Regions from separate parts of the Homo sapiens genome. Here all the other regions are linked to region 1. The links come from fine-mapping of genetic effects on gene expression. A gene starts in region 1. Each other region holds a variant in brackets. All regions are shown on one strand. Distances are from middle to middle. Region 1 holds the start of APIP (APAF1 interacting protein). Region 2 holds the start of LOC105376624 (a long non-coding RNA gene). Region 3 overlaps PDHX (pyruvate dehydrogenase complex component X).

The links.
Region 2: its variant is fine-mapped to the expression of APIP in lymphoblastoid cells (GEUVADIS, PIP 0.92).
Region 3: its variant is fine-mapped to the expression of APIP in lymphoblastoid cells (GTEx, PIP above 0.99).

What each region holds. Positions count from the first base shown.
Region 1 is chr11:34,910,231-34,921,255 of GRCh38, reverse strand. APIP (APAF1 interacting protein) reads left to right here and starts at 4,877. Exons shown (of 7, transcript NM_015957.4): 1 at 4,877-5,028. The coding sequence starts at 4,972. It overlaps PDHX (pyruvate dehydrogenase complex component X), which reads right to left and starts at 4,638. Exons shown (of 11, transcript NM_003477.3): 1 at 4,441-4,638. The coding sequence starts at 4,600. RefSeq lists an enhancer at 4,337-4,636 and silencers at 4,807-4,856, 4,877-5,216.
Region 2 is chr11:34,864,882-34,875,906 of GRCh38, reverse strand. All of the region lies in intron 6 of LOC102723568 (a long non-coding RNA gene), which reads right to left. It overlaps LOC105376624 (a long non-coding RNA gene), which reads left to right and starts at 629. Exons shown (of 2, transcript XR_931185.2): 1 at 629-740. The variant A/G (reference allele first, on the strand shown) is at 5,724.
Region 3 is chr11:34,939,441-34,950,465 of GRCh38, reverse strand. It overlaps PDHX (pyruvate dehydrogenase complex component X), which reads right to left. Exons shown (of 11, transcript NM_003477.3): 3 at 2,860-2,960. MIR1343 (microRNA 1343) reads right to left here and starts at 8,629; the gene lies at 8,546-8,629. The variant T/C (reference allele first, on the strand shown) is at 4,685.

The DNA.
Region 1 (11,025 bases):
AAAGAAGACAAATAATATGAGCCCTAGAAGAAATAGATGGAATAATTATGGTTTCCCCATGGCCCTGCAGCATTTTATAAGTGATGTTCTATCCTTTTAATAAATCCTACTTTTACTAGAGCTATTCTACATGTTTCTGTTTCCACAGTTAAATGAGAATTCAAAGGAGAATATCAATCTTATCAGTGTATAAGCACTTAATAAGAACCAGGCCTAAAAGAGTATCCGTGTTTTGGCAGAAATACCATACCATTAACTCTATCAAAGAAGTTCCCTCTCTCCTGGTTATAGCACTGCTGTCAAAAACTCAGATGCCTACAAAAAACAGGCAGGTGAGAGAAGAGGACTAGCATCTTCAGGTTTTTTCTTTAGATTCTGACATCCTTTATTTTCATATTAAATGGATAAGCATTTTCCTCCTTTACACATATACACAATATCTGCTTTCTCCCATTTTTCTTGGTCTTTTGTCTTCTGCCTTCCGTAGAGATAAGAGTACAAGAAAAAAAAATGACAACTAGAGGTGATGCAAATACCAAGGGACATTCAGCCTTGCTAAGATGTAATACAGAGTAGGCGGCATAGTGACAAAGTAGGAAGCAATTTCCTACCTAAAAAGAACAATCATTACTCAGTGTTAGATAATTGTCACCACATAGGATTTAACTATCAATTTTAAAGAGAGAACAAAAATCTAGATTTCTCTGTAAAGTCTCCTGATTTTAAAATTTTGCCATAAGTTTTTCTGCTAAAACAATGTGGGTCAGTTCCCTGGCTGCCAACTTGGAATCCTACTGTAGGCTCTAGTGTTCTTTTATAACTTCCTAGATTACTAGCTTCCTTAGATATGTTTATTGAACATCTATAATATGTATTGCCTATAATTATATACTAGGCAAATCGCCACCAAGATTGAACCTCAGTTACTTTTCTATTCACAGGTTATTTTAAATTCAACATGTTATTCTTCAGAGACAACTTAAAACCAATACTATTAATTAACATCTTACCAATTATATTCCAAATCATGCTACCTACTCTGAAAGGACCACAATTTAAACTCTCTGAAGTTAACTGTCTAGAGTAGGTTGAAAAACTGTTTACAGATGCTGTGTCAATTATATAATGATCACTCTGGTCTCTGGGTCTTTGTTTCTGCTGTTCCTTCAGCCTGTAAGGGCTGTCACCTCTTCCTCTAAGAAGCTGCCTTATATATTATTTCCTGATCATTTCAAACTTACCCCCTCTGAGCTTACTGTATACACTATTGAAATCATACCTTTATTGTTTATGTCCCCAAAGAGACTACAAATACCTTAAGGATCAGCCCTATATAGAATTTTGGATTGCATGTCCAGGAGCTAAGTATGATTAAATGTGCCATGTGGCAAATACTGAGAATCTGTTTGATTCAGCTGGCCACTACTTCCCAAGCAGGGTACCATGTGCCTGGCACCTAATAGATGCTAATTTCTTCACTCATTCTTCAATAATGTAAGTGGTAAAAAAGATAGTCTCTGCATTCTCAATAAATCTGTTGAGAGAATGATACAAATTAAAGATTTGTTAAACAAATTAATATATGTATATAAATATATACATGCACTTCAGTTCATCAACACAGTTACATGTCTTTAGGAGACTCAATTTCTCTAAGCCTTGGTGTTTTTGTCCAACTAAATGCAGATGATGCCAACTTTACTAGGTTATGTGAGAAGTGAATGAGAAATTCTAGAAAGTGCTAAGAAAATGGCATATGTCATAGCTCATAAAAATGCTGCCAGCACCTCTTAAGGAAATTAAAACTCCAAAGGTAGTTCCGACTGACAAATTTTTAAAGATATTTGTGTGAAAGACGAAACAGTTCAATAAATGTACTTAATTTATATAGTTTACAGTAATCCAAATAGTTGTTTAGTTTTATAAAACTACAGTTTCTACCAAGCTCAGAGAAAAAACACCACCGTAAATTCACAGTTTGTAAAACAAATAGTTCAAGGATTGCCACGTGTTTTCGGCATGGCAAAACAAAAATCTGTATGTAGGTGAAAGTCAGAAGCGGATATATTTTGGCTCGGTATTAGGAAAAAAGTCCAACACTTCCAAATACTTAGTATTTCCAAATACTTTCCACAGCTTCACATGCAGAATGCCATGCCTCAAAAGGTTCACGTCCTAATACCCAGAACCTATGAATATGCTGTTACATGGCAAGAGGGAATTAAGGTTAAAGATGGAATTAAGGTTTCTACTCAACCTTGAGATGGGGAAAATATTCAGGATCATCCAGATGAGCCCAATGTAATCACAAGGGTCCTTGTAAGTGGCAGAAGGCAGAGGGGAGTATTAAGAGTGACGTAATGTGATAAAGACTGAACCAGCCATTGCTGACTTTGAAGCCCATGAGTCAAAGAATCTTAGAAACCTCTAGAATCTGGAAAACTTAAGGGAATGGGGTCTCGAGCCTCCAGAAAAGAATGCAGCTCCTACCAATAGCTTGATTTTAGCCTAGTTAGATCCATTTTGGACTTCGGACCTCTAGAACTATGAGATGTGAATTTGTGTTGTTTTAAGCCACTAATTTCTGGTAATTTGTTGCAGCAGCACTAGAAAACTAATTTGGCTTTCCTTGAGATGCCATGCCTTCTTCCTGACAGATGGTATTCAAACTGGGGTAGACAAGTTGTTCATGGTATATGTCTAGGGGATAGGGAATAGGTAAAAAAGCATCATGAGGATGCAGATAAGGATTGCTTGCCTAACTGAGTTTCTAAAGGCATTAAACTGGGCCTATGTATACTTTTTTTTTTTTTTCTCCTGAGACAGGGTCTCACTCTGTCACCCAGGCTAAAGTGCAGCGGCAGGATCATAGCTCAATGAAACGTCTAACTCCTGGGTTCAACGGATCCTCCTGCCTCAGCCCCTGGAGTAGCTGGGATGCCAGCACGCCTGGCTTTTTTTCTTTCTTTTTTTTTTTTTAAGTAGAGACGGGGGTCTCACTTTGTTGCCCGGGCTGGTCTCCAACTCCTGGGCTCTAGCAATCTTCCAGCTTCGCCTCCCAAAGTGCTGGGATTACAGGCGTGAGCCACTACGTGCACATTTTTGTGTGTGACCATTTATGGTACTTCCTCTGTACAGAGAGTCTGTAACATTTTCAAAGATTCTCAAAAGGATCTGCTTGATAAACAAGATTAAGAGCACTCTTCCTAGATTATATCCAATACTAAACTTTTAATATTCCATGATTTTCTAAGGCAGTGAGTCTCAAAGCTCATTCCATTAAATGTCAAAATAAAACATCAAAACTCATCCAACATTTGTAAAATGCAGATTCCTGAGCCCCACACCAGACCAGACCGAATCTCTAGGAGCTGGAAAAAAGTTTAATTTCAACAAACTTGGAGGAGGGAAGAGAAGGAATTCTGCACACACTGTTAAAGCACCTCTGCTCCAAGGAATATGTTATGAAACATTACACCAAAAATGAAATAAATTGTTCCCATTAAGGAACCTTTAGGAACCCCAATACACTCATCTTACCATATGACTTTGTGTGATTTTTTTTTTCTGAGCCTAAGGTAGCTCAGAATATGAAGGCAACGTCTACTAGACCTATTTAAATTAAAATTCATTCTGTAGAGTGCCAGGAACGATGATTGGCAGGTAATACGTCACACTAAAAAACGTCAGTCCTATTCTCCATCCCCGCCTCCCTCCAACCTTCTCCCAAAATAAGGAAAAATAATACCCGGCCTGCCATTTTGCATACTGTTAAATACTGCAAGAATTGTGTTAACTGCATCAATATCATTACTAAACAACAATTTTCTATAATAAATTTTTGGTATGATTTATCTCCTAAATGTTTGCTCTTTCAAGCGAATATTTGCTTGAAACATTCTCCTGGACCTTTGTCTATCGTGATGCCGTAGGAATTTACAAATTTAAGTCTTCCACGAGTCATGGCGTGGGGTAAAACTCGACTGGCCTCAATGAAAACACCTCCTAACAGAGAGAGGCCTAGAGAATAAGTAAGAACTCCCAACAGTGGCTTTTCAATCTCGGCAACCTTGGGCAGCTTTTTCTCGTCCGAGACGTTTGACAACCCTAAAGAAACCTGAGCCTTGATTGGAAAGGGGGCTGAGGGAGGAGAGTTTGGGAACCCTCTCTGCGCCTCACAAATAACCCAAATTCCAAGGCAAGGTCACAAAGCCATACAAACCAGGGGGCCTAGGGCAGAGTCGAGTTCTCTCAGCTGCCAAGAAAGCCCTTCACAGCATGCATTAGGCCAAGTCGGCGGACCCCAACCGGAGAAAGAGGAAAGGGAATAAGGAGCCCGCGCACCTTCACACCCAAAAGCAGGCCCTCAATCATAACTGCCCCTGTCCCAGGCCCATCACTCAGCTACACAGAGAAGCTGAGCGAGCCCCGGCCACTCACCCCGAAGCCACTGCGTGCTGTGAAACCATCTCCAATTAGCTCCGCGGCTTACAGACCACCCAAGAGCCCCCTTCACCAGCCCTACGCTTCGGCGGCCGGGGAAGCCCACAAGATAACGCAGCAGCCGCGGATCACAGCCCAGCCTCCAGGAGGCCGCCATCTTGACGGCCTTCTCACTGGCTGCCCGCAGCACAGCCTGATGTCCAGCATCAAGGCCCCGCCTCCCGCATGGTTGGCCACGCCCCCAGACGCTAGCGGTGCCTTTAGGTCTCTCAGACTTGAACCCCCGCCCCCCAACCCAGCCCCGCCTCCAACCACGTTGGCCTTGCCTCCCGGGAAGTCAGGTGCGCCGCTGGATATCTCAGCCGGCGGGGCCTTACCAGACCCCGGCCCCCGCCCCGTTCGCCCCGCCCCCGGGCTGCCCTCAGCGCCGCCTGATTGCATTTGCGGCCTCGCTGCCGTATCCCAGGCTAAGCGCCGCGCGCAAAGCCGTGCGGAGATTGGAGGCCGCGCGGGTCCCTGGTCTGGGCCATGTCTGGCTGTGATGCTCGGGAGGGAGACTGTTGTTCCCGGAGATGCGGCGCGCAGGTAGGGGCGGGGCCACCGGTGCCCGGTATTCCCAGGAGGAGAGGCCCAGGCGGGACCCGGCGGCTGGAGCTGGGCGCAGGGTAGCGGGCCGGGCGTTTAGCTGCGGGGCGGGGTTTCGGGCCTGGCCGTTCGCTACCCCGGCGCACCGCGACCTTGGCGTTCGGAAGCAAGGCTGCGAGGCCCCAGGAGATCAGTGGTCTCGGGCGGGGCGCTCCGATGGCGGGAGCTGGGCGCCAAACGTTGGAAAGAAGCAAATAACTGAGAGAGGAGAGCGTTTAGGTGACCTCACCGGGTATTTATCAGGAAGGCAGGCCAGAGAAGGAATCGTGAAGCACCGAAGTGGAGCTGGGGCGAAGACCGCGCCCCCCAAGCTTCTTTTCTGCGCCCTGACGACCAGTTAGGCGTTTGGGGGGACGTTTGGCACTCGGGAGACGTTTGCCGAACCGGAGCTGTGCCTCAGCTGCCAGCGCTTTGCCTTTGAGCAGTTGCTCCTTGCCTATCTCCGTTTAGATGAATTGTGGGATGATCATGGGAACGATTCTTCCTTAAGCCGAAGTCAAAGGGAAATCCACCCTCACGCTGCATGTAGTTTTCGGTCATTTACACAAACCAACAGTTTTATGGAGCGCCTTCTACACGCTCAGAGATAGGGATACGTAAGATAAATGGCCCAGGGTCTGGAGAACTAGACGAATAAGCAGTTTCAGCACAATATGATAAACCCCACCTAAGAGGCAGGGAAACCCCTCAAAATTAGTTTCCTTATTCCCCCTATCTTATTCCTCCTATCTATATCTTTCTTAGGGTTGAAAATCCTAATTAAAAAGTAGTAACTCGCGGGAGATTTCATTGCTAAACATTTGTCAACCACTTTCTTGTTTGAATAAGTGACTTCCCCAAATTAGCAAAGACGACTCTGAAAATAGAATGCTGCATAGGCAAGATTGGATGAGAGAGAGAAGATCTTGGAGACAGGACAGGTAACTGGAGATCGTTCCTGGGCAAGTGTGTATGGAGAAGTGTCCGTACCCTCAATCAGTAAATCTTAGTGTAATGTCATCAGAATGAGCATCAAAGAGAGCCTTAAGGGACCCGAGAATAAACTAGGATTCTCAAACCAAACATGGCCCACAGACAGCTTGGTGGACAGGCATGTTTTTTTTTTGCTGCACTCAATGTTCATGAAAAATTTGAGCCAACCTTTTTTTTTTTTTTTTTTTTTTTTTGACACGTTTTGCTCTTGTTGCCCAGGCTGGAGTGCAGTGGCGTGATCTCAGCTCACTGCAACTTCTGCCTCCTTGGTTCAAGCGATTTTCCTGCCTCAGCCTCCCAAGTAGCTGGGATTACAGGCGCATGTCACCACACCCAGTTAATTTTTGTATTTTTAGTAGAGACTGGGTTTCACCATGTTGGCCAGGCTGGTCTCGAACTCGTTATCTCAGGTGATCCACCCCCCTAAGCTGCCCAAAGTGCTGGGATTACAGGTGTAAGCCACCACGCCCTGCCAAGCCAACATTTCAAAATCCAGAATCATTTCAGCTTCTTTTAAAACCTCAGAACACATGGTGACATTGGGCCCTTATTTTTTCATGGGATCTGGATTGCGGTTACTAGTGAACACCACCTTTACAGAGGGTGCTGGCCAGGTTACCACAGCTTCCACTACTCACACTGGATTTGCATATCTAGTTAAATACATGAGCCCCTCTAGATATTTGTATTTGTCTGGTTTTGTACAAATACATAAAAACAGCAATAAGAAAAGTTTTAAGAAGTCATAAAATTTCATTGTAGTTTTAGGGGGTCATGGGCAATGGAAAGAGACAGTCTCTTTGGCCTTAAGGAAGGGGAATGTTCAACTGTAAGTGATTAATTCAACGAATATTTAGTGAGCGCCTACTATGTGCCAGGCATTGTGGATTTATAAGTGCAAGCTGCATCTGGTTCCTTCTCCCCTAGAACATGCTGTACAGTGGAAGAGACAAATTAGCAAAGAGACAAAGATGGTATGACAACATGACATAGTTTGACATATGACGATATGACTTAGATGGGAAAGTTCAAGGTAGTTTAGGAGTATACACTTGAATGGGTTAGAGAATACCTCAGGAAACAGTGAAAGTATCTACTGAGGCCTAAAGGATCAGGAAGACATAACCACATGCAATGAAAGTAAGGATATTCCAAGTAGGGGAAGTAGCATGTACACAATCTCAGGGTTGTCCTTGATTACAGACATGGTGTGTTCCCATATTAAGTTTGGTGTTCTGGAACATAAAGTAGGGGCCAGAGACTTGAGATGAAGCTAAAGAGAAAAGCTAGTGAGAGGTAAAGCCGCTGGGCTTCTGGGTCGGATGGGGACTTGGAGAACTTTTCTGTCTAGCTAAAGGATTGTAAATGCACCAATCGGCGCTCTGTGTCTAGCTAAAGGTTTGTAAACCCACCAATCAGCTCTTTGTAAAATGGACCAATCAGCAGGATGTGGGTGGGGCCAAATAAGGGAATAAAAGCTGGCCACCAGAGCCAGCAGCGGCAACCCCCCTCGGTCACCTTCCAGGCTGTGGAAGCTTTGTTTTTTCGCTCTTCACAATAAATCTTGCTGCTGCTCACTCTATGGGTCCGCACTACCTTTATGAGCTGTAACACTCCCTGCGAAGGTCTGCGGCTTCATTCCTGAAGTCAGCGAGACCATGAACCCACCGGGAGGAACGAACAACCTGCGTGCCACCTTTAAGAGCTGTAACACTCACTGTGAAAGTCTGCAGCTTCACTCCTGAAGTCAGCAAGACCACGAACCCACCAGAAGGAAGAAACTCTGAACATCTGAACGAACAAACTCCGTACACACCATCTTTAAGAACTGTAACACTCACCGCAAGGGTCCGCGGCTTCATTCTTGAAGTCAGTGAGACCAAGAACCCACGGGAAGGAACCAATTCTGGACAAACTAGGACCAGACCTAAAGGGCCTGTTAAGCAAATCTTAGATTTTTAAACTAAGGGCAATGAGATAATCAGCAGGATGACTGAAGAAGGCCTGGGGATTGCTGGCTAGAGTTAAAAAGACCAGAGGCATGGAGACAGACTAGGAAGCCGTGGCAGGCATCCAAGCAAGAGATGCTGTAGGTCTGAGTGAGGGAGTAAAATCAGGAGGTCTTGGTTATTGATTAGATGTGTGTAGTGAGAAAAGAAGTCAAGAATGACTTTTAGGCTTCTGATCTAGTGATTGGGGCCTGGTGGTCCACCAGAAAGAGAATACAGGAGGAAGAAACAGTTTATGATGGGTGTGTTGTGGACATGTTGAGTTTGAGGTACAGCCTCAGCATGTGGTACTATACACTGAGTGTATTTAGCAGGGTTCTCTAGAGGGACAGAACTAATGGAATATATATATAAAGGGAAGTTTATTAAGCATTAACTCACGTGAACCCAAGATCCCGCAATAGGCCGTTTGCAGGCTGAGGAGCGAGGAGAGCCAGTCTGAGTTCCAAAACTGAAGAACTTGGAGTCCAGTGTTCAAGTCGGGAAGCATCCAGCACGGGAGAAAGATGTAGGCTAGGCCAGTCTCCCTTTTCACATTTTTCTGCCTGCTTGTATTCTAGCCATGCTGGCAGCTGATTAGATTGTGCTCATCCAGATTAAGGGTGGGCCTGCCTTTCCCAGCCCACTGACTCAAAATGTTAATCCTCCTTTGGCAGCACCCTCACAGACACACCTAGGATCAATACTTTGTATCCTTCAATCCAGTCAAGTTGACACTCAGTATTAACCATCACACTGGGTATTGCTTTCAAGCTAGGAGAGAGAACTGGATTGGAGATAAAGATTTGGAAGACTTGCTCACCAAAACCTTCGCTCTCAAGACCTGTGTATTTATATTATTCTGTCTTTGATAGACACTCTTTTCTGAACACATATTATAAAAGATATTATATATCTTTTCTGAACACTCTGTAGCCCATTCAATAATTTTTATTATCATTTGCAGTAACATCCCCAAGTGACTTATGTTTCATGTACTTTCTTCTTGTATTCTAAAGATTCTTCAGGCATCAAGTGTATTATTTTCGGGTCAGACTCAGCTTATGACAATAATCTCTGACCTGGTTTTACAGCTCTGAAATTAAATCCCTACTGACTGGCCCTTGAACTGATTTTTTCTAACATCAGCAAAAGTCAAGGAGTGTTTCCCTAAAAAAGAAAGCATTTACTCAGAAACCGTATATTGAAGTCCAGGCTGAAAAATGCAAACATGAGTAAGTTGTTCCTATTTTTCAGAAACTTGGGCAGTTGCAAATGCATATTTATAATTAATATATACCAGTAATGGGCAGTGGGGCATGGGGGGAAAGGATGAAGTTCCATTAGGGGATGACAAAGTATTTTGCAAGTATAGAGGGAGGGGAAGGTCATTTCATACAGTGACTCATGGAAGACTTCATGGAGAATATGGCATTTTAGATTGGCCAGATGGAAACCAAAAAGAAGATACTAGGGCCAGCATATGCCCTGTTTTAAGAGGTAGCACTACACAACACTGATCGTTTTTGCTATGTGGGAGTATTATGGGCCCATTGTTTAGTTTTGCTTTTTTAAGGGAAACTGGAAACTCAGATTTTATATGAAATCTCTTGATTTTAAAATTTAGGCTCAGACTCTTTCTAAGCATTGCGTAGACCAAATAAACAACTTCCTGTGAGCCTGAAGCAGTCCACAAAATACCATAACCTCTGATACAGGACTTTTTTTAATGTAAGAGATATGATGTTAATGCAACCAACGTTTATTGAGCAAAGCACTGTGGTAGGTATAGCTATACCAAGAGCCCATTCTCTGCTTAGTTGCAGAGAAAAACCAGGTAGGGACTACTTCTATTTTTTTAATTTTACCTTAACTATCACAGTGTCCTATATATGTTGACACTGAACAAATATTTTTTCTTTGATATTTCTGCAGCACAAGTACATCCAGTACCTTGCCCTTTTTTTTTCCTTGACCTCATCACTGCTGTTCATCTTTACCGCCCCCTCACTCTAACATCCCATTCCCATGGTCATATCCTTCTCTGCCCAACCCCTACCCTTTTACCATACACTTTTTTGGGTATATTCAACTATATGAATTAGTGTGTCTACAAGTATTCTGGTGTCTTACTGCAGCTGGCCTCTGAGTAGCATGTGACAGTCCTCTGGGGAGTTTCCTTTTACATTCCCCTAAGTAGCTGTTCCAGAACCTCATCATTTCACCTCATCCTTTACCCCACACCTGTTTCAAAGGTGACCTTGCCTCCAAAATCACAAAGAAACTGAAAGCTATTAGGTGTGAACTTCTTAATGTCTTCCTCTTTCCACATGCAGTATAATGTAAAGGTTAAGGACCAGGATCTAGAATCAGACTGCCTGGGTTCAAATTCTGGCTCTGCCTCTTGCTATCTTGGTGGCCTTGGACAAGTTACTTAATCTCTCTTAGTACAATAGGGTTGTTATAAGGATAAAGTAAAGTATTCCATATAAAGGCTTTAGAAAAATGCCTGGCACAAAATAAGCACTCTATAAAGAAATGTTAGCAATTCTTATTATCAGTGGTATTATTACATATTTAATATTACATTGTTAATATTATTACATACTTACCTGCATCTTTACCTTTCCTCCCATTCCTGTTTTTCTAATGCCAGCTTCTCTATCTCGACAAAGGCTGACCTCTTAGACCTCTGCTTTCCTGTATGTTTAATCTTTCCCTGTCTCCTCATGTTACCCGTTAGCATGTAACAGAAAACTGTCTTAATTAACCAGTTTTTCCCTTCTTTTTCCCTGTCTAGCCCTTCTTTATAGCAACACTATTGAAAGAGTCATTAGAACTCCATGCCTCCAAGTTTCATTTACTTCTAAATGAAAGTGAGTGAAGCTCACTGCGATCTTGCTTCCACACCCAGTCTATTGAAACAGTTGTTACTTAAGGTCGTGGTTGACCTAATTTACATATGGAGTTGGCCTAG
Region 2 (11,025 bases), 45 kb after region 1:
TTAAGCTTAGACTTTCTCACCTGACACCCATTTTCTCAGCATATGTTAGTGAAACGGGAGAGTTCCCTGATCCCTCACAGGACTTATGACAGAGGTGTCGCTCATGTGCTCAGCCACTACAGGCTCGAACTCCTTTCGGGAGGGCGAGCACACGGATGGGCGGGGGCAAGAGCTGGGGCGGGGCGAGTGCTTTTGGGCTCCAGCCCCAGTAGCGTTTAGGGGTGTGTTACAATTAATGCTCTTTTAGTAGTTGCCATTTGTGGACGGCTAAGTGTTAAACCAGCTCAGTAGAGAGTCAGGGTGACAGCCTTTTACACCCTGCCCTCTTGGTACCTGGATCCTTGTCCGGTGTATTAGTCTGTTTTCACACTGCTGATAAGACATACCGGAGACCAGGCAATTTACAAAAGAAAGAGGCTTATTGGACTCATAGTTCCACGTAGCTGGGCAGGCTTCACAATCATGGCAGAAGGTGAAAAGCGTATCTCACATGGCAGCAGGCAAGAGGAGAGAACTTGTGCAGGCAAACTCCCATTTTTAAAGCCATCTGATGTTGTGAGACTTACTATCATGAGAACAGCAGAGGAAAGACCCGCCCCCATGATTCAATTATCTCCCACCAGGTCCCTCCCACAACACGGAATTATGGGAGCTACAAGATGAGATTTGAGTGGGGACACAGAGCCAAACCATATCATCCAGCGTCCAGGAAGATTCAGGTCACTCAGACTTGAAGGATGGTGAGTGCAGGGATTTTATTGGGTGATAGAAGTAGCTCTCAGTGGGATGGATGGGGAGCTGGAAAGAGGATGGAATGGGAAGGTGATATTCCCCCAGAGTTTGGCTGCCCCACAGCCGATCTCCTCTCTGACTGTCCCCAGCTGAACTCCTGTTGATGTTCAGACGCTCCTTCTCTTCTCTTCTTCTATGCCATGCCACTCTGCTGCTCTGTCGTTCTGCTACTCTTCTGTTCCTCTGCTCGTGGAGCTTGGGGTTTATGTGGGCACAGAATAGGGGCATGGCAGGCCAGAGTGGTCTTAGAAAAGGCAACATTTGGGCGTGAAAACAGGGATGCCTGTTCCCATTTAGGTCCATGGGTTTCCAGGCTTGAGGGTGGGGCCTTTGCCAGGGAACTGCCCTCTTCTACCTAGTATTTCCTCGCCTCCTGCCCATATCATTAGCATTTTTAATAATTTTACATTGACCTTGAGCAGAATCACTTAACTTTCATTTTCTGATTGGCATTTTCTAAGGGTCTTGTAACTCCAAATTTCAGCAAATCTTCTTTCGTACTCAGTACTTGTTCAGTGCTCAAGTGTTGGTACGTAGGTAGAGGTAAGCTGCTGTTGGTGTCTACCCAGTTTCCCTCACTCATAGGAGCCACCTCCACTCACCCACATCCCTTGAGGCTCTGGGATGATGTCAGTCACAGTATTCTGCCTGCCCTCTTGCTGCAGCCATAACCACGTGACCCGGACCTGGCCAGTCGTGGCCAGTCATAGCACACCATTTCCCTGCCTACAGAGGGGTTCAAAGTCTTAGGTTCCTAACTCAAGGAGAGGTGCCAGGACCCAACTCCACTGCCAGATAAAGAAAGCCTGTCTGTGTTTGAAGAGAATGAAACCAACACACAAAGAAAAGTATAAAAAGCAGAGCCAAGATATAGAAATATTTCTACTACAGCATTTTAGTACTTGGATTTAGCAGTACCTTTGGATTCACCTTCAGCCTTTTGAGTCAGAAGAGATGAACAGATTTGCTTTTTTAAAAGTTATTTTGAGATGATTTATTTCATAATAGAGTCTTACACAATGTCTAATAGTATATCAAACCAAATGCTATGCAATTGCATGAAATAAAAGGCTAACTCGCATTAATCTTGATGAGACTCAAGTCTTTTATGTATATTACTTCATACAAAATTGGTAAATAAAGGAATGATATTGGTACATTGGTATAATATGGAAATTGCATGGATTCATACACAATTTTTCTCAGCACATTGTTTTAAAGCAATTAGGGCAAGATTTCTTATAATTAATGAGAAAGCTTTAAAGATATATGAAAACATTTTGGAAAAAAAGCTGAAAATCTGCAGAAGTTTATTCTTTATTGGGAAAAAAAGCCTCATTTAGTAGCTTTAGGGACCTTCAGTAATTTTCATTCAGTTAAGCTATCTGGAACAGGCATGGATAAAGACACTAAGAAGATATTTCTAGTTATATAAAACAATGGATTAGGAAGCCTACAGACTGGATACGATTTTAAAATTTGATGAAAATTGAATTTTTTAAAAGCAAATGCCTTCTAATACTTACATCTTAAAGGAGGAAGCACAAGTCTAGGAAATTATAAGGAAGCAAATGATTAACAGCCATGAAAACTAGAAGAAAGCTAACTGTGGTAACATTTTTATTAGTAATATTTTTATTGGTATTCTGGTTACATAGTTCATAAGTTTTTAGTGTCTTCCTGAACCTTGTCTACTCCATTTGCCTTATTATTTTTGGTACAGCATAGATTTTTCAGGAACACTTATATGGCGTTAGAGCAGCAGTCCCCAACCTTCTCGTCACCAGGACCAGTTTTGTAGAAGACAATTTTTCCACAGATGGGGGCAGGGGGAGTGGTTTCAGTATGAAACCGTTCCACCTCAGATCATCAAGCATTAGATTCCCATAATGAGTGCACAACCTAGATCCCTCACATGTGCAGTTCACAATAGGGTTCCCACTCCTATGAGAATCTAATGCCACCAGTGATCTGGCATGAGGCGGAGCTCAGCGGGTAATGCTCGCTTGCCTGCTGCTCACCTCCTGCTGTGTGGCCCGGTTCCTAACAGGCCACAGACCAGTACAGGTCCACGGCCTGGAGGTTGGGAACCCCTGTGTTAAAGCATTTATATTACATTTATATACACCCATACTCGTTCTGAAAAGGATTGAGAATCTCTGAAGATACAGAGAGGAAAATCAAACTGTGTTTTCATTCTCTCACTCAACAACACAGAAAACTTCTGTGACCTCTGGTTACCAAGATGGATGTCGGGGATTTTTCCCCACCAGCAACCAATTCTGCAGCAGACACCATCTGCTGGGTGTCCTCCGATCCAATTTCAACAATATCTAACTGGAAACAGCATCAGATTCCACAGGTTGAAGGTTGAGTCCCAGAAGGCTGCCCTCCACTTCCAATGCCTATTGCAAGCCCCAGATTGTGACCTATGCTTCTGACTGACCTGCTGATAAATTGGGATATCCACCATTCCCTCCTTGGGTTTAATTAGCCTGCTGCAGTGGCTCACAGAACTCAGGGAAACATGTTTACCCGTTTACTATAAAGGATATTACAAAGAGCACAGATGAAGACATGCATAGGGCAAGGCACAGGGGAATCACGTGCAGAGCTTTCATATCCTCTCCAGGCATGCCATCCTCTAGAAGCCTATACTTGTTCAGGTATCTGGAAGTTTATCCAAACTCTGTCCTTTTGGGCTTTTATGGGTGCTTTATTATGTAGGCGTGATTGATTAAATTGTTGGCCACTGGTAATCAACTCAACCTTCAGCCCCTTTTTCCCTCCCTGGAGGTTAGGAAGTGAGGCTGAAAGTTTCAACCCTCTAATCCTGCCTTGGTCTTTCTGGTGACCAGCCCCCATCCTGAAGCTACCTGGAGACTGCCAGCCGTCAATCATTATCATACAAAAAGACACATCACTTTGAAGAGTCCAAGGATTTTTAGGAGTTGTATACCAGGAAACCTGAGACAAAGATAAAATATATATTTCACAACATAGGATAAGATAATATTAAAATTTACATAATAAGATGTGGGAGAAAAGGGAAAGAAAGGAAGAAATAGAAATACAGATATTAAAGTTGAAGGGTGAGATTAAAGCTAAAACAAAATTAAAGCCATGTGTTGGTAGATAAACTATTCAGATTTTGTGCCAAATAAAGTGGCAATTCCTTAACAAACCAGTTTATTACTATTACTATTTATCTCATGCTGAACAGTGTCATTGTCTGGGGTAAATATCCGAGATTCATTGTCTCATGGTCATGGAAAACTAGGACATGGACACACAAAGAGTGAGGTTCAGAGCGGAAGTTTAGTAGGTGAAAGAAAGAGAAGTGGGTTGTCACTTCTGTGGTGAAGTGCAGGAGGTTTTATAGATGACCTATATTGAGTAGGCGGTGTTTGATTTACATGGGGCATGAAAGATTGGTCAGACCAGGTGTGCCATTTGCATAGCACATGAAAATCTGGCTGCCCCCCACCTCCACACTAATATTTTATTATGCAGATAGATTCTCTACCTGGCCGGCGCCATGTTGCCTGTTCCTTTACTGCACATGTGGCCACAAAGAAAAGGGAAGATGGAGCCTCCATGCTGAACATGCCTGGGCCTGGGTAGCCCTTTTCTATTGGCAGAACTGCTGGCATTCACTGTGCAAGTTTCCAGCTTGCTTATCAATGTCTGCAGTTCAATTTTTCAGGCTTATTTTTGTTAGAAATTATTTGGGGGCTCCTTTTTGTTAAAAGGGGAATCTTGCTGAGGAGTCTTGTGCCCTCATTATCTGCCTAATTTCTTTCTAGCTCCTGTATCGATGCTAACAGGTTGGCTATTTGGGGTTAGATTTAAAAATAAGAGCATAAATTTGGTAGGAGAATTTAAATATTTTTACTCCTTTGGTTAACAAGAGATATGGTAGAGAAATTATTTAGATCTGTGAAAACTCTTATTTCCACTTTTTTTATTGATTTTTCAGCCTAAATTCATGTGTGTAATAAACATGTATATTTAACACGATTTTAAAAATTCAAACTGTACATATTCAAAATCTAAAATATATCCTTACAGTAATTTTTCCTCCCACCCTGTTCTGGTCACCCACTTCCTCTCTTTGGAGGCAACCACAGTATCAATTTCTTGCACATCCCTTCACAGATGGTCTATGCAAATATAAAAATATATCTACACATATCTGCCTTGGACACAAGGATTCACCACCCAGATCCCTTTTCATGGGAGGACTTATTGCTTCAACTCTTAGGAGTGCCGTCAGCCCCATTCAGAGATCTCAGCTGCAGATTTGCTTACCCAAGGCCATGCCCTTCCCAGGGAAGCCCATATCCAGTGACTGAGGGAGCAGGAATATGAGGACTCAGCCATTTCAGCCTGATGCTGGACATGTCTGATGTGCCAAATTTAGTTCCAGAGCTCTCCCTGGGGCAGCTGAGGCTCTCAGGCCTGTATCGCAGCTTGACTGCTCCTCAATTCGATCCTGCTTCTGCTTCCTCCCTTTCACAGGCAGGGCCACCAACAGCCCCGGTTTTCCTAGGACTGAGGGGGTTTCCAGGATGCTGTATTTTCAGCGCTAAAACTAAGGCTGTTTCAGGAAAACTGGGACAAAGGAGTCATCCTATCCACCTGCGTTGATACCAAGGACATCACCTAATAGTGACATCCTGCATACTAAACTTTCTCTCAGAGGCTGCTTCCTGGGGAACCTCAGCCTGTGACAGTCAGTAGCAAGAGTGGTCTAAGAAAGTAGGTGATAAGATAGCTTTGGAGCTGAATATCTTACCACCAAGTTGACACTGAGGACCCCATCTAGAGGTGGGTGGGGTAGATAGCCCCTGGCATAAGGTGATGGTCCAATTATTGAAACTTTCACCAGTGGTGAAGTGGGATAGCACACTAAGGAAGAGAAAACACCA[A/G]TACACACCATATATCAGGCATTTGAAAATTATGGAGGAAATAGTCACAACAATGACAGTGGGAGTGGATGATTACTGTGATTGTTGCTTTGTTAAAGATAATGAAAGGCTGAGAGTGATTAATGGGCAATTAAAAGTGAAGAGTGGAAGCAAGAGGGCTTCCTTGATAGCCAAGAGATTCTTCTGCAGTAGGAAAGCAGAGAAAGCTGAAGAACAGGCTCAGGTTTTAATCATCAGAATACCTGAGATTCAGAATGTTATACTCCCAACTAAGGCAGGTCTACCATGACAAGGCCAAGGCCCTTTTTGGGAAAAAATAGGACTCTGACACAAGGGATGGGGAAACCAGCATTGATGGCTCTGAAAATCTTTAATGCTCAGATTCTTGCACTTCCCAAACCTGCAAAAGTGAATTCCCTCCCTGTTAAGAGCTAGCACCCCTTCCTTGCCTCTCCAGCTCAGGGCAACATGTAATGTCCCCAGCATCTGTTTTCACTTTCCCTTCTGGCCACTAGGTGCATAACGAGGGTTAAGTCACAGAATAACCCAGCCAGGGTTGCGCTAGGTCTGACAAGAAAGGAAAGAGTCCCCAAAGAAGCTGCAATGCCTAACTAGCAGGTACCAGCAGGCACCACGGGAGGTCCATGGAAATGAACCCCAAGAGTGCTCAATCAAGAAAGCTGGGACATAAGGCTGGTTATGAAAGAGTTTATTTATTTTTCTAAAATACAAGATTTAACACTTAGGCTAGGATCCCAGCAGGTGGGCCCAACCTGCTACATAGATGGCTCCTAGAAGTGTGGCAAAAGCAAGGACCCATGCTGAGTGAAACTAAGATATAAGAATTTCCATAGCACATGGTGGAAGAATAGATTAAAAGATGTAGGGAAGTGGGCAGGCTGGAGTGGATGTACAGTGTAAGGCCAGATAGCACACTAGATTATTACAGTTCATGGGAAGGCCTGGACATGCTATTTATCAAGGCTACAGAAAGCATTGGTGAAAGGGATCCCAGCATTACTAAGTATCCCAGGTGAAAGTAGGAGAGATCATTACATCATTCAGCTTACAGGTACGAATGGTGATAAGACCCCAAAACAATAGAAATCAATAGACACCTGTCAGCAGCTTTTCACCATCAAAAACCAGGTGATACAATTATTTCATAATGAGTGGTAAGATCAAAATCACAGCCAAGGGGGCCTCATCTGCAGAATTATATAGATGATTAAAACAACACAGCTTCAGGTTGGGCACGGTGGCTCATGCCTGTAATCCCAGCACTTTGGGAGAGGTCAGGAGTTCGAGACCAGCCTGGCAAACATGGTAAAACCCCTGTCTCTACTAAAAATACAAAAATTAGCCAAGCATGGTGGTGCATGCCTGTAGTTCCAGCTACTCAGGAGGCTGAGGCAGAAGAATTGCTTGAACCTAGGAGGCAGTGGTTGCAGTGAGCAAAGATAGTGCCACTACACTCCAGCCTGGGTGACAGAGTGAGATTCTGTCTCAAAAAAAAAAAAAAAACAACCCCAGCATCCACAGGACCAAAACAGAGAGACAGTCAACAAAGGCACCCCAAAATAAACCTTACAAATATTCAGAGGCCTGGCACTCAACTTGTACCTTGAGAAGAAATCAAGACTAGATGATCAGGAGGCTGAGTGCAGTCACCCCAATAAAAACACAATCTCTTATCCAGTTTTGTGACCTCAATTGTTATAGGGACCCAGAACCCACTGATGAAAAGAGAGGATAGTCTCCAGATAAAATGACTTTGCAACACCATGGCAACGCAAGAGATATTGATTCAGTCCTCTCCCCAAGGGGCCTATGTATAACTCTACATTGGGGGCAGAGGGAATACCCAAGCATGTGATTACTGTTGGACGTAGAATATGAGGTGATATTGATAGCTGGAGACCTGAAATGTCATCTTGATCCTCCCTATTACAAGATAATCATATGAGACCAGTTTACAAGTGGACTATTGACTGAGGTCTAGCTCACAGTGGGCCTACCTACTGATCATTTCCAAATATATAATTGGAATAGACATAGTTGATAGATGGTGCAGCTCCCACATTGAATCCTTGGCCTGTCAGGTAAAAGCAGCCTATCATAGCAGAGAAGGCCAAGTAGCAGCCTTTGAAATTTCCATCTACTCCCACCTTGCCCCCAGCCAAGCTACTAAATACAAAACAAATTCATATCCTGGGAGGGATGACAGAAATTAATGCTACCCTTAAGCATCTAAAGGAGGCCAGAGTAGAGATCCTCATTTTATCTCCACTTAATTCACCAGTCTGGACCCCTCCAGAAATTAGATGGATCTCCTGGAGCATGAGAGTAGACTACACAAACACAGCTGTAGCTGCTGTGCCAGATGTGGCACCTGTGCTAGAGCAGGTGAACATGGCTTTGGGTACACAGCATGGAGCCAGCCATTTCTATCAGAAAAAAAGATCAGAAGCCAGGTGTAGTGGCTCACACTTACAGTCCCCACTGCTCAGGAGGCTGAGGCAGGAGTATCACGTGAGCCCAGGAGTTAGAAGCCACAGTGAGCTATGATTGTACCACTGAACTCCAGCCTGGGCTATAGAGCTAGATCCTGTCTCTTAAAAAAGAAAAGACCAGAAACAGTTTAGTTTCATGTGAAATAGGCAACAGAGCTATAGTTTTCTCCAGGGCTGTGTTAGTTCTCACTCTTGTAATATAGTCTGAGGAAATTTGGGCTTTCTGAGTATCTCGCTGGACCTCATATTGATCCACTACATTGATGACATGGCGCTAAATGGCTGAATGATCAAGAACCAGCTAGCATCTGCTCCAGAGGTGGGAGGTAAGCCCTAGGAAGATTCAGAAGCTCAACATCAGCGAAAATTTTAAAGATCCAATGATGATGGGCATGCTAGCATATCCCACCCAAAGTGAAAGACAGATATTACATCTTGCGCTCCCCATTAGGAAAAAGGAAGCACAATTCCTTGTAGACCTCTTTAGGTTCTGAAGTCAGCACATTTCACACTTGGGAATGCGGCTCCGGTCCATGTGCTGGGTGTCTTGAAAATTACCATCATTGAGGGAACCCAGAGCAGAAAAGGGTTCTACAGTAACTCCTGAACATTTGAGCCAGTGACCCAGAAGACCGTATGATGTTTGAGTACCGGTGGTGGGAAAATATGTCATGTTAGTTTATGGTGAGTCCCAGTGGGACAATCGTTATGCAGATCCCAGATTTCTGGAACAAAGCCATGCCATCTGCAAGGAAGAATTATTTGCCTTTTGAAAAACTCTAGTGTGCTACTGGGCCGTAATAAATATGGAACTTGCCTCTGAGATACCAAGGGTGATGGTTAATTTTATATGCCAACTTGGCCCGGCGACAATGTCCAGATATTTGGGCAAACATCAGTCTAGATGTTGCTTTGAAGCTATTTTTTAGATATGATGGACACTTAAATCAGTAGACTTTGAGTAAAGCAGATTACCCCCATAATATGGGTGGGCCTCATCCAATCAGTTGAAGACCTTAAGGGAAAAGTTGGAGGTCCCCTGAGGAGGAAGAAATTCTGCATTCACACTGTCTTTGGATTTAAGATTGCACAAGATTGCAACATCAGCTTTTCCGTGTGTTTCTGAGAGCCTGCCGGCCTGCTCTGTAAATTCTGGTGGTGCCTGCTCACACAGTCACATGAGCCAATTCCTTACAATAAATCTCTCTATTTCCCCACTCTGTCTGTGTGTGTGTGTGTGTCCATCTATGGGTCTGTTTCTCTGGAGAACCCTAACTAATGCACCAAGTGACCCTGCATCCAGAACACGCATCATCATGAACTGGGTTTTGTCAAACCCAGTGGTCCCCAATCTTTTTGGCACCATGGGCCAGTTTCATGGAAGCCAATTTTCCCACAGATGGGGTGAGGGGGATGGTTTCAGGATGATGCAAGTGTATTACATTTATTGTGCACTTTATTTCCATTATTATTCCATTGCAATATATAATAAAATAATGGTACGACTCACCATAATGTAGAATTGGCAGGAGCCCTGAGCTACTAGATGCAACTAGATGGTCCCATCTGGGGGTGATGGGAGACAGTGACACATCATCAGGCATTAGATTCTCATAAGGAACATGCAACCTAGATCCCTTGCATGCACAGTTCACAATAGGGTTCACACTCCTATGAGAACCTAATGCCGCTGCTGATCTGACAGGAGGTGGAGCTCAGGAGGTAATGCAAGCAGTATGTAGTGCAAGCCAAAAATGGTCAGCAGCTGCTCTACACATCCCCTCAGGGGTGGCCTTGAAAGATAGTGGTCAGGGAAAAATTCTTCCAATGGAAAGAGTTCAAGAGATGAATCTGGTCACCCACTTTGTATGGACGAAAGAAATGGCCCAAAGTTATAGATTCATTGGCAGTGGCAAATGGCCTGGCTGGCTGATCAGGGGCCTAGAAGAAGAAAGATTGGGAAATTGGAATCAAATTGTCTTAGGGTAGAAAGTGTGAGAATAGATATTATAGCAAGCGTGAAGTACGAAGATCTTTGATCACATGTTAATGCCCACCAGGAAGCACATAGTACAGAAATAGTATGAAGCAATTAGGTGGGCAGGGTGACTCAGCAGGTAGAGGTCATCCAGCCTCTAAGGCTCTCTCTGTTCATTCTTCCCACAAGAAGTCATTTGATTATTTCAGACTAAGCAAATGCTCAGTGAACCACACCCCTGGTAATTACGGACAACCACCAACTTTGGCATTTACAGCCAAGTTTCATGGAAATATCTGAGCACTCAAAGCAGGAGGAGGCAGCCAGGAGACAGATCTGGAGGCCCTGCTAGGATTGTGACTCTTCACAACTATGTGCTCATTCTTCTTCCATGCCTACACTTCACCTGGAATTAACTCTTCCCTGGGCAGCTAACACTAGCATGCATTGACCCAAATGAATGTGGTGGTATTGTCACCCCCAGATGAGCTACTAGTTGCTTCAGATCCAACCATCTTTTATCCATGTCTACTTAGCAAGGACTCCAACCAGAGGCTGCACTGGGACCCTCTCAAAGAAGCTCAAACCCATATCATTGGAAGGAGTCAGGCTGCCATTTTCCTCTGTAGAAGGTCTATATCCCAGCTTGGTAATAAAGCCACCTCCATTGGGGAAACATGAGAGAGTCCAGCTGGTGTGGTAGCCCCAGTAAATTGCTGAAACCCTCAATGGCTTCACCAAATTTTTACTACCATTTCACAGCAATAGCAAGATACTAAGGAGGAAAGATCTAGTAGTTACCTAGGAATAT
Region 3 (11,025 bases), 29 kb before region 1:
CACACCAGCATGGCACATGTATACATATGTAACTAACCTGCACATTGTGCACATGTACCATAAAACTTAAAGTATAATAATAATAATAATAATAAAATAAATAAATAAATAAACAAACATTAAAAAAAGAAAAAATTAGAGTTGAGAATATCTTCCATTTAATAGAACTGCTCTGAGCTCTGAGAGGCTATTTTCTCAATTAAAAATATCACGGTCTAGACAGAAGAATCATTTGAAGCCTCTACAACTTCAAATTTCAACCATAAACTTTCAAACCATTAAAAGGCAACTTTGAATGGGATTGTGGGCAACTTAATGAAAAAATAAGGGTGGGGAAGGGGTATCTAACGAATACAGTAATATTTAAAAATGTATTCTTTAGAAAAATACCAATGACAGTATTTGAGTGAGATAAAGTGAAGAAACCAACTGAAGAAGGTGAATAGTACCGAGAATAATTATTCTGCTATTTTTAGTATTCAGATGATCAATTAAAAAACCATTTTTTTAAAAAAAATTTGTTTTAATATCCATGGATGCTATTTTTTAGAAAAAATTCTACTTTTGAAAATTGTTTTGAATAATGGTCTATCAATAAAAATCTATCAATAAATATATTGCTAGTCAATAAATACATTGCAAACATTACATAAATGTAAATAATTTTGACATCTTATACCCTTTTCATCCTCACAAATATCCTAATTGGTGTGCCAAATTATATAGCAACCCCAAATACACTGGAAGCCAAATTAGAGAACCTCTAATAAACCCTCCAAATATGTCATCCTAAGATTCTACTTTATTAATTTATCATTTAAAACAGCTGCTGTTCAATTTGCTAAATACTAACTTTAAGAATAAGCTGATGAACTGATCTTTAAATGTATAATAACTGAAGTATTTTTGTATCAAAATTTACTAGTTTTGACAGGGCATGGTGGTTCACGCCTATAATCCTAGCACTTTGGGAGGCCAAGGTGGGCAGATTACTTGAGTCAGGAGTTCAAAACCAGCCTGACCAAATTGGAGAAACCCGTCTCTACTAAAAATACAAAATTAGCTGAGTGTGGTGGCACATGCCTGTAATCTCAGCTACTTGGGAGGCTGAGGCAGGAAAATCATTTCAACCCAGGAGGCGGAGGTTGTGATGAGCCAAGATCGTGTCCAGCCTGGGCAACAAGAGCAAAACTCCATCTCAAACAAAAACAAAAACAAAAACAAAAAACAGAAGAAAAAAAGATTTACTAGTTTGTCCCTGATAAAATTGCAACATCTTGTTGTGAAGAGACTCCCAAATATTATCCAAAAAGCATGTGGAATAATAATAAAGCCACAAAGGCCTAAAATATACAGTCTTTTCTTTGGCAAGAAAATAGCTGTGCCACCAAAGCCACTATCAACTATATGCACTCCCACTCCCAACCTTTTTCAGAGCATAGGGGCCAGATGAATTGGCACTGCTGACCCACTGACATGGTTAGCAATTTGAAATGTATTACTAAGCAGCTAAGTGGAAAAATGCTATCAATTCTGGAAGATTTCCACAGCCAAACAATCCAGAATTGGGGCCAAGAACACAGTTTGCCAAAAGCACACATAATAAAATGTAGCTGGGTTTATTACATGGTAATTCAAGCAATCTGTTTCAATATGCTGCATAAATTAGTCAAGAAAACTATTTTTGGTATGAATATTTATATTTTCCTAGTTACAAATGTACAGAAATTTTAGGCTTTGATTCATATTCCTACAAGGAAGTTAACTGTATTATCAACATGTTTCAACCTGGAATGTTATATCTAGTATCTAATATGAGAGATGACAAGTAAAGGAGTTTGACATATTCGAAGTTAAAAATACAACATAAGTGGCTAAAAAAAAAAAAAAAAGGAAAAGAGGATTTTCTAGAAAGAAAAACAAATAAAAAATTGTCTCTAGATTTGCACCTAGTTAGAGTATAGCATTCTGAAGTGTAGTCTTTGAATAGAATATACAAAGGAAGGTGTTACATCTATGCTCAAAGCAGAGGTAAGCTGGTGGCTCAGAAATAAAAACACATCCACAAGGGACTGCTAATAGACATGCAGCTCATCTGTACAAATTGAACTCCAGAGGCACAAATGGATACTTATTATCCAGTTGCAACCAACCAATACAAATTATTAGGCAAACATACAGACTGACTTGGGGACTAATGGTCACCAAGAGCTGAGGAAACAGTTCTAATAATGGGAAAAGTAACATTTATTGAGCAATTGGGTAACAGGTCTTGAGATGAGCATATATGTACTCTCTCAATCTTCCCTACTGTCCTATGAAGTAGGTATTATTATCATCTCTACTTTAACATGAAGAAAAAGGCACAGGGGATGAAGAATTTGCTTATCATTACGTAACTAATAACTGGCAGAACTTTTTAGATATAACATGAATCAGTCAGCGGGGTGATTCCAGAGTCCACAGTCTTAGATGCTCCACCATACTACCTAGTAAAGGTTCTGGAAGTTAAGAAACAAACACGCTGGTTGGCTCAATCAGGGAATATACCACACAATGCTAAATAGTCATGTTTCTACCATATGTAGCTCTACGCATTTTATTTCACTTACTTTTCACATAAGCTCTAATATTCCATTATAAAAATAACGCACATTACAGAAAATTTAGAAAATACAGAAAAATAGGCTATTAGACCTTAACTCTAAAACATTTTAAACACTTGAACTAAAAATGTATTATGTAGTAGACAATACACATTAAAAATAAGGAGGCAAAAATAAAAGGTAATTTTACTACAATGAACTTTCCACTCAAGAAATCTTCATCCTGTTGAAGAAAATTAAAATAAAAACTTACCACGATTTTGGCCAAGATTCCATCATCACTTGCATCTAAGGTAACCACAGCTTTGTCAGTCTCAATTTCACATAATGCATCTCCAGCACTCACCGCTTCACCTACAAAACAAGACTGGGTTTGTTTTGTTTTTTAAAATATAAATATTACTATGTATATATGTACGTATGAATAAAACATAAATAAATACCAAAATATTCCGTAGCTATTTCTGGGTTGTGGAAATACAAGTAATTCTCATTATGTGTGGGTGTTTGTGTGTGTGTGTGTATGTGTATGCTTTGCTGTAATTTCCAAAAGCTCTATAATGGACATAAATTATACTTGTGATAATAAAAAAGCTATTACAAAGATTACTGAGCATGTAAAAATGAAATCAACCTTAAAGACATCAGCAACAAATGTGTATCCACCTCTGAACAAATCAATTCCAGACTCCATATCCCCCTTACTTTTTCAAACATTTTGACTATATTCCCTGAAGAAAAGTTTTACAATTAACAGTACTTCTGGGTTCACATCTTAGGGCAAGTTCAAAAAACCTGTTGGCAGCACACAGTATAAATGAATAAAGCATATAAAGCATAAAAAGAGAAAATCAAAGACACAACTGAAGTCAAATACAGATCATTTCTCTGCAACAGAAAATATCTGGAAACTCAAAAATATGGAGGAAGACCTGAAGTTCCAGGCTTACTAGCTTCTGGATTTAGGAGCAGGTTTGGAGCAAACAGGGGAAAAGAGGTACAACAGTTTCCTTTGGGGATTAAAGGGAACTAAAAGTAGTCTGTTGGATATAGGGGACTCAAATCAGATTCACTATTTGGAGCTAGGGCTAAGTCAGGGTTCTTCTACTCATAATGTGAGGCTGATAAAATGCACAATCAAAACCTGTTGACTGAGACTATGATTTTAATCAGCAACCATGGGTCTAGGAAGGTGGGGACCAGAATACTGCCTCAGTACCAGGAACAAAGTCAAGCCACCCTCTGGCTCCGGGGCTGTATCTGCCAATATCCCCAATATCAATTGCAAAATTCCTTGGATGGTGGCAAGGATCGAGGGGGGACTGCGTAGGAGGGAAGACATTAAAACATAAACTTTCCACTTAAAAGTAAATTGCACAAGAAAGTTCTGAGACACACGAAGAAATCAAAAGCTAAGAAAGCAAGCCACAAAATCAGTAATTGTAACAAAAATTCTTTTCAGAAGCAATTTATTTAGTGCAATCTGTCAAAGATTGTAAAATAAGTACTTGAGGACATCCAAAAACATAAATGAAAGTAAAAGAGCCATCACAAGAACAAGAAATTAAAAAAAAATGGTATCAGGTAGAAATAAAAAAACGAATTAGAAATCTTAAAAATGAAAAATTAAGTAATTGAAATAAAAAGAAACAACAGAATATATTCTAGACAGGGAATAGTGAAGGTATGAATTAGTAAATTGAAAGGTAGCACTAATGAACTACGCAGAATTTCATACAGGCAGACAAAAAGATACAAACATTAAAAACAAAAAACAAAACAAAACGAAAAAACAGAAAAGAGCAGTTAAGTGACAAAGACTGAGGCTGCAATGTTTGCTAATGGAGTTCTGAGGGAAGACACTGGAGGCACTGGTGGAGAAGCAATACCTGAAGAATTAGTGGCTGAGAATTTCCCAGAACTGGAGATGTATACTCTCATCATCAAAGAGTTTTGAATGAATTTAGGATAGGTGTACTGACTAGCAGGGGGCATACGGATCTGTGTAGCTTGCTAAGAATGTTCTAAATCTTGATCTAGGTGGTGGTAACATGGGTATACATGTATACAAAATTTAA[T/C]TGAGCCTAAAGTTTATGCAAGTTATACCTTGATAAAAACTTAAACAGAAAAAAGAGTATTAGACTATATAAACATGAATCCATATTAGATACAATGTAAAGAAACCGCATTCTATCAACGATAAAAACATAATCTTTTAAAAATCTATCAAAGGGGAAAAAAAACAGATTACCTCAATGGAAAGACTGAGAGTACACTTCTCAGCAGCTGCAACAGAGGTCAGAAAACAATGAAGTAATATCTTCAAAAAACTGAGGAAAAATAACTGTCTAGAATTTTGTATGCTGCCAAACCATCATTTGAGAATGAAAGAGAAGTATTCTTTAGATATATAAAGGCTAGGAAATTTTACCACCTATTAAAGATCTCTTTAAAAAGCTCTTACAAGATGCAGTTCATCAAGAAGAAAAGTGGAAGCAGATGGAACCCATGGGCTATAAGAAACAAGTTATTGTGAAAATTACTAAAATGTTAACTACTAGTATTTTTAAAGTAATGTTTGAGGGTTTAAAAAGTGTAAAACTCAAACTCTAAAAAATAATAAGATAGGTAAGGAAATGTTTAGATGGTAAGGCATGCTAACAACTTTGATATATTCAGCTGGTGCAAAAGTAATTTTATTTTTACCACCTTACTTTCAAAAACCCCAATTACTTTTGCATCAACTTATAATAGGAGAAAAATACTGAATAATACTAAACTTTATTGGCAAAATTTAATTTAAAATTTAAAAACAGAAATATAATCTACAGCATTAGAAAAACAGAGGAAAAATAAGAAGTTGATTATCTAACTGAGGGCAGGCACATGGAAAGAAAAGGCAAAGGATAAAAACAAAAATGCACAAAAAATGGTAGAAATAAGTCCCCATGTATCCGTAATCACAATAAATATAAATGGATTAAAATCACCCATTAAAAGTAGAGATTATCAAAATGGATATGAAAATAAAATCTAGGTAAATGTAGCTTACAAGAGATAGCCCTAACACAAAAACAGAATAAAAAACAAGGGGATAAAAAATATGTAACATATAAATACACCTCCTCACACACCAAAAATAGCTGGAATAGCAATATTAACAGGCAAGCATCATAAGAGAATATGAAAGAAAATCTAAAACACTAAATTAACAAATATGCTCTGAACGTTCACAGTACAGAAAGTACTTCATTGTGTACCAAGATGATCAAATTGATAGTTATATCTTCAGGTTAAATAGTTCAGAGACACTAATATAAGTTATTTTTAAAAATAAATTGATATGTTAGATGATATTTATTTACCACCTAAAAGGTCCTTTGTCTAACTCCAAAGAGATGTCCCTAGTCAACAAACATTTATTAAAAATGTATTGGGGTGGCCAGGCGTGTAGGCTCACACCTGTAATCCCATCACTTTGGGAGGCCGAGGTGGGTGGATCACCTGAGGCCAGGGGTTCAAGACCAGCCTGGCCAACATTGTGAAACCCCGTCCCTACTAAAAATACAAAAATTAGCCAGGAGAGGTGGCAGGCACCTGTGGTCCCAGCTACTCGGGAGGTTGAGGCAGAAGAATCACTTGAACCTGGGAGAAGGGGGTTGCAGTGAGTCAAGATCATGCCATTTCACTCCAGCCTGGGCAACAAGAGCAAAAACTCTGTCTAAAAAATAATAATAATTATATAAATATATTTTATATATATATACACACACACACACATATTTGTATTATATATTTATATATTACATATAAAATATATATACATATGTAGGCACTGAGGATACAGCAGTGGACAGTAATAACAGCAAAGATTTAAGATTCCTGACCTCAAGAAGCTTGCTTAATATCCATTGACAAGTAAACTGGAAAATACAGCAGGATAAGGTGAGGTCAGGATGCTTTGGGAATGTTCAGGAGGGGCATCTAATTCAGTTTTTGTAAGGTGAGAAAAGGCTTCCTAGAATACAATGACCACCTATTCTGAGCCTGAAGAGGTGAGGAGGAGACAATCTGTAAACAGGCAGTGATCCAGGTAGAAGGTAATACACTTATAGCCCTGGAGGCAGAGAGAACAGGAAACTTCAGAGAAACTGGCAAATAGTATGCGAGAGAAGTGACGAGAGATTAGGCTGGTAAGATATGCAGGAAGAGACCAAAAATGACCTTTGTATGTCATAGAGAAAGCTACAGTGTCAGATTATATCATCTTACATACTTCTTTAAATGTTTTAGTGGTTAAAACAGATTGCACTTCAAAAGGGAAAAAAAGCACACCCTCAAAGATTTCTGCTATAATCACGGGAAAAACTATAGAACTAGTAAACCCAGCAATTAAATACCTCTTAGATGCCTAGAAAACAGACTCTAGCCACAGAAAAACAAAATGATGCTATATCATCATTTGTGTTCATCAGTATTCAAATTCCAACCACACTTTAAGAACTACAGATTCGACTTCAGCTATATAACTTTCTCTGAGTAACTTGACCTACATAATTTTGTTCATATTCCAGATTCCTATAGTAGGTCTAATTTATTTAAAAATCACAAATTGCATATAAAATGTTATATTACTGCTAATTACTTTTTTAAATTGTGATTTCCTCTATTTACTAGACTATGAGCTTCTTCACAATACGGACAGGACACTTAAATGTTTTATATTCCCATCCCCATTCCTCAGGTTTCATGGCCAATGCACCATACCCAATGAATTTTAGATTAAAATGCTTTAGAAAAAAACATGATAACTTCACGAATCCTTATTTCCTCATAAGGTATACATCAAATTATCTTTTACATTTCTTTTGCTTCTAACATTTGATTTGTAGCATGCTTCTGATATTTAAAAAGATAGCCTTTTTTTCTTTTTTAAAAAACTATATCTATTCACATAACACAGACATATATGTTAGCTAGATGAGAATGCCAAGGGAGAGGGTAGAAGAGAAAAGCAGGAGGAGAGAGAAGGAAAAAAGGAGAGGACAAAAGAGAGGGAGGTAGGGAAAAGAAACACAGAACACTTTACCAATAAATCACAGGGAAGTTTTAAAAACATAGTAATATTACGTATGGAAGCATTACCCCTAACTCATCACAAAACCAAAGTTCTATCTTTCAATAATCAAACATCATGTAAATGCCAAAAGAAAACTCTGAGAGCAAATAATGAGCCATGAATATTTCAAATCTACTGAGTTTCAGCTGTGATCAAAAATTTAGTGCTATAACTTAGAAAGACTCCTTGGCAGAGTAGTTACAAGGAACCTCTCCTAATTCAAATATGAGTTTGATTCCAAGCTCTGACAGTTACTAGTGATCTTGACCAAGTTACTTAATCTCTCTGACTCTCAGGAAAATTTTAAATGTATAGATATATATTTTTTAAGTCATGGGGCTGGAAGTGTTAATGCTTCACATACATCTTTATGTAACACTTTACAACATCTCTAGGTAAAAATAAAATGTTAGCTATACAACCATTTTGAATCAAGACACATTTATTCCATATTCTGTCATGTCTACCTGAATCAAGATACGGTTTTTTTCCATATTCTGTCATTTCTACCAGAATCAGGACACATTTATTCCATATTCTGTCATTTCTACCAGATCATCCAACAAACATTAATGTATAAGGCACTGTACTAAGCACTGGGTATGAAAACAACAAAAAGAGAAGGTTCTGTCCACAAAGAGTTTAAAGTGGAGAAGAGTGGAAAAGACTCAGCAGCTAGGATAGAGGGTCCTGGACAGCGTGAGATGACAGATGGCTTCTCAGCTGTCAGGTTCATAGCTGACTGATTGAAGAAAGAGATGGCAGCCCTGGAGTGTTCCTGCACCATCTTCTCGTGGTCCATGGCAGTGGCGGAAGAGGAGCGGGCCCAGAGCGAGAGTGCGGGCCCCAGGAGGGGCCAGAGCAGAGGCCCACCCGGGGGCCGCTCCCCAGCACCGACGCCAGCATCATCGTCCTGTTCCTTTGTCCGATGGGCAGCTGCCAGAGCTGAGGACTGAAGTATACGGAGGCTTCCCTTTCTCTTTTTAAATTCTAGATATTAAGCATAGCCTTGGTCAAACACAGTTAATGGTGATGTTTATTTTATTAATAGAATAAGTCCTGAGGCTTTCACAAAATAATTTTGTTCTGCCAAAAATTAAGAATAAAAGTCTTTACGTAAAAGATGTGTGTGGTGGTGGTGGTGGAAGAGAGCTAGTTTTTATCTGTAAGACCAAGTTATCAGATTAACATGAACATTAAAGAAAAATTCCTCTTCTTAGTGCTATGTTGAACCATAATGATAACAATAATCAGAAACAAAAATAATTCAATTGTTGACTCTACAAGTATTTACTAGCTGCCCATGTGAATGACACTGTGTGCGACACTATGATAAAAATAGTAATAAAATAAGACAGAACTGCTTCAAGAAGTTCCTAATCTGATTGAAGAACAGTACAACAAGCAGGCAATGACAATCCCATCCAATTAGTACCTACAGCAGAATGGGAATGTAGAGGAGGGACCCCTAGTCAGTGTTTGTCATCCCTTTTCACTTCACACACACACAAAGAAGGATAATATTTGCATGGCCAAAGACCTGAGGCAACCTGGTTGCTAGGCCAGTTGAGGTCCTGCCCTATGGGGTGAAGGCATGAGTAGGAGAGTTTGAGAAGGGCCCAGTTAGACAAGGTCAACCACCCACACATCCCTCTGGCTTCTTAAAGTCTAGTAGCTACTGTATTCGACAGTTTAACACAGAACATTTCCATCACCACAGAAACTTCTATTGAATAAAACTATAATCTATAATTCCATTCACTAATTTAAAAATTCTGATATAATACAAAGATTTAGCAATAAATGTAAAAACGCATAATGATGGAATATAATTTAGTAACAAAAGGAATGAACAGCTGATAAATGCTACAACATGGATGAACCTTAATCATGCTAAATCTGAAAAAATCTAGTCACAAAAGACCAAACATTACATGCTTCTATTTATATGAAACATAGACAAAAGGCAAAACTTTAGAGACAAAAAACAGATCCGGATTGTCTAGGGATAGAGATGGGAGGAAAAAAATGACTGCAATCAGGCAGCAGGGATCTTTTTTGGGGTGACAGAAATGTGTTCTAAAACTGGATTGTGGTGATGGCTGCACAACTCCATATATTTATTAAAAATCATTGAATACTTAAAATAGGTAAATGTTATGGTATGTAAATTATACCTCAATAAAGCTGTGAAAACCATAGTACACCAAAAAAAGGAAGCTATTTGTGAAATGGACTTTTCAAAATTTTCCATTTTAGCACCACAAACATATACATATTGCCAGAAATAACGGAACCAAAGTGTCTTCTATAGTAGAATCCAGAGACCCATATAACTCTCTAGTGGCATCTAGTGATATAGGATAAGGCTTTCTTCAAAATGGTTTTATTTCTGAATTTTATACAGTAACAGTATATTAGACAAAAACTATTTGAAATACAAAAAAATCCCTTGTCTCATGACATAAGGAATACCGCAGCAACAAGCACCACTGTTAAGCATGCTTACTACGTACATTCTAGGCACTGTGGGTGTGGCTAAGTGCTTGATGGAATTATCTTAGCCTGGTTTTGTTCCATAGTGCTTCACGGCAGAGCAGAAAAATCTCAAATATTCTGAGGAAAAAAAACAAGGTTTTTCATAACCTCAAATATTCTCTTACAAAAGGAGAACAAGAATTTTTTTTCCTTTCTGTTATTTTAACAGATTTGACAGTTCAATTGATGAAAAAATAAACTAGGTGCAGTTTAAACTGAAAATATCTGAAGCACATGCCCCCTCCAAATAAAAAACTTGTAATAAAAATGCCAAATGATAGCTCAATTGACCTTTCAAAAGATTTTGAAATTGTGGGTGTTACCTAGCACTTTCAGAGCATTTTCTGTACTAATTTTATGATATATAAGGTTTTAGTCAATCCTCAGACTGAAATGAAGTACTCTAATAGTCATTATAAAACTTATTTTCTTAGAATCATGAGTTCAACAAAGACGGAAATAATTTATATGCTATAATACTGCATATTTCAGTTACTTAAAAAAAGAAAATAAAAATGAGTTATCATAGAATTATAAATCCAGGATATTCCGTACCTTAGATTTCAGCTAGTTCAACTCACTCCCAGGTAGTTCATGGCAGAGGAGGAACCCCAAAGGAAAAACCATGATTCCTGGGCCAGAGTTTTTTCTTTGCACCCTTACCTCCTTGGTGTAAAACGCTGCGCGCATGCAAGTGCACACACACACACACACACACACACACACACACACACCATTAGTAAAAGAAGCTGTGAATCAGTC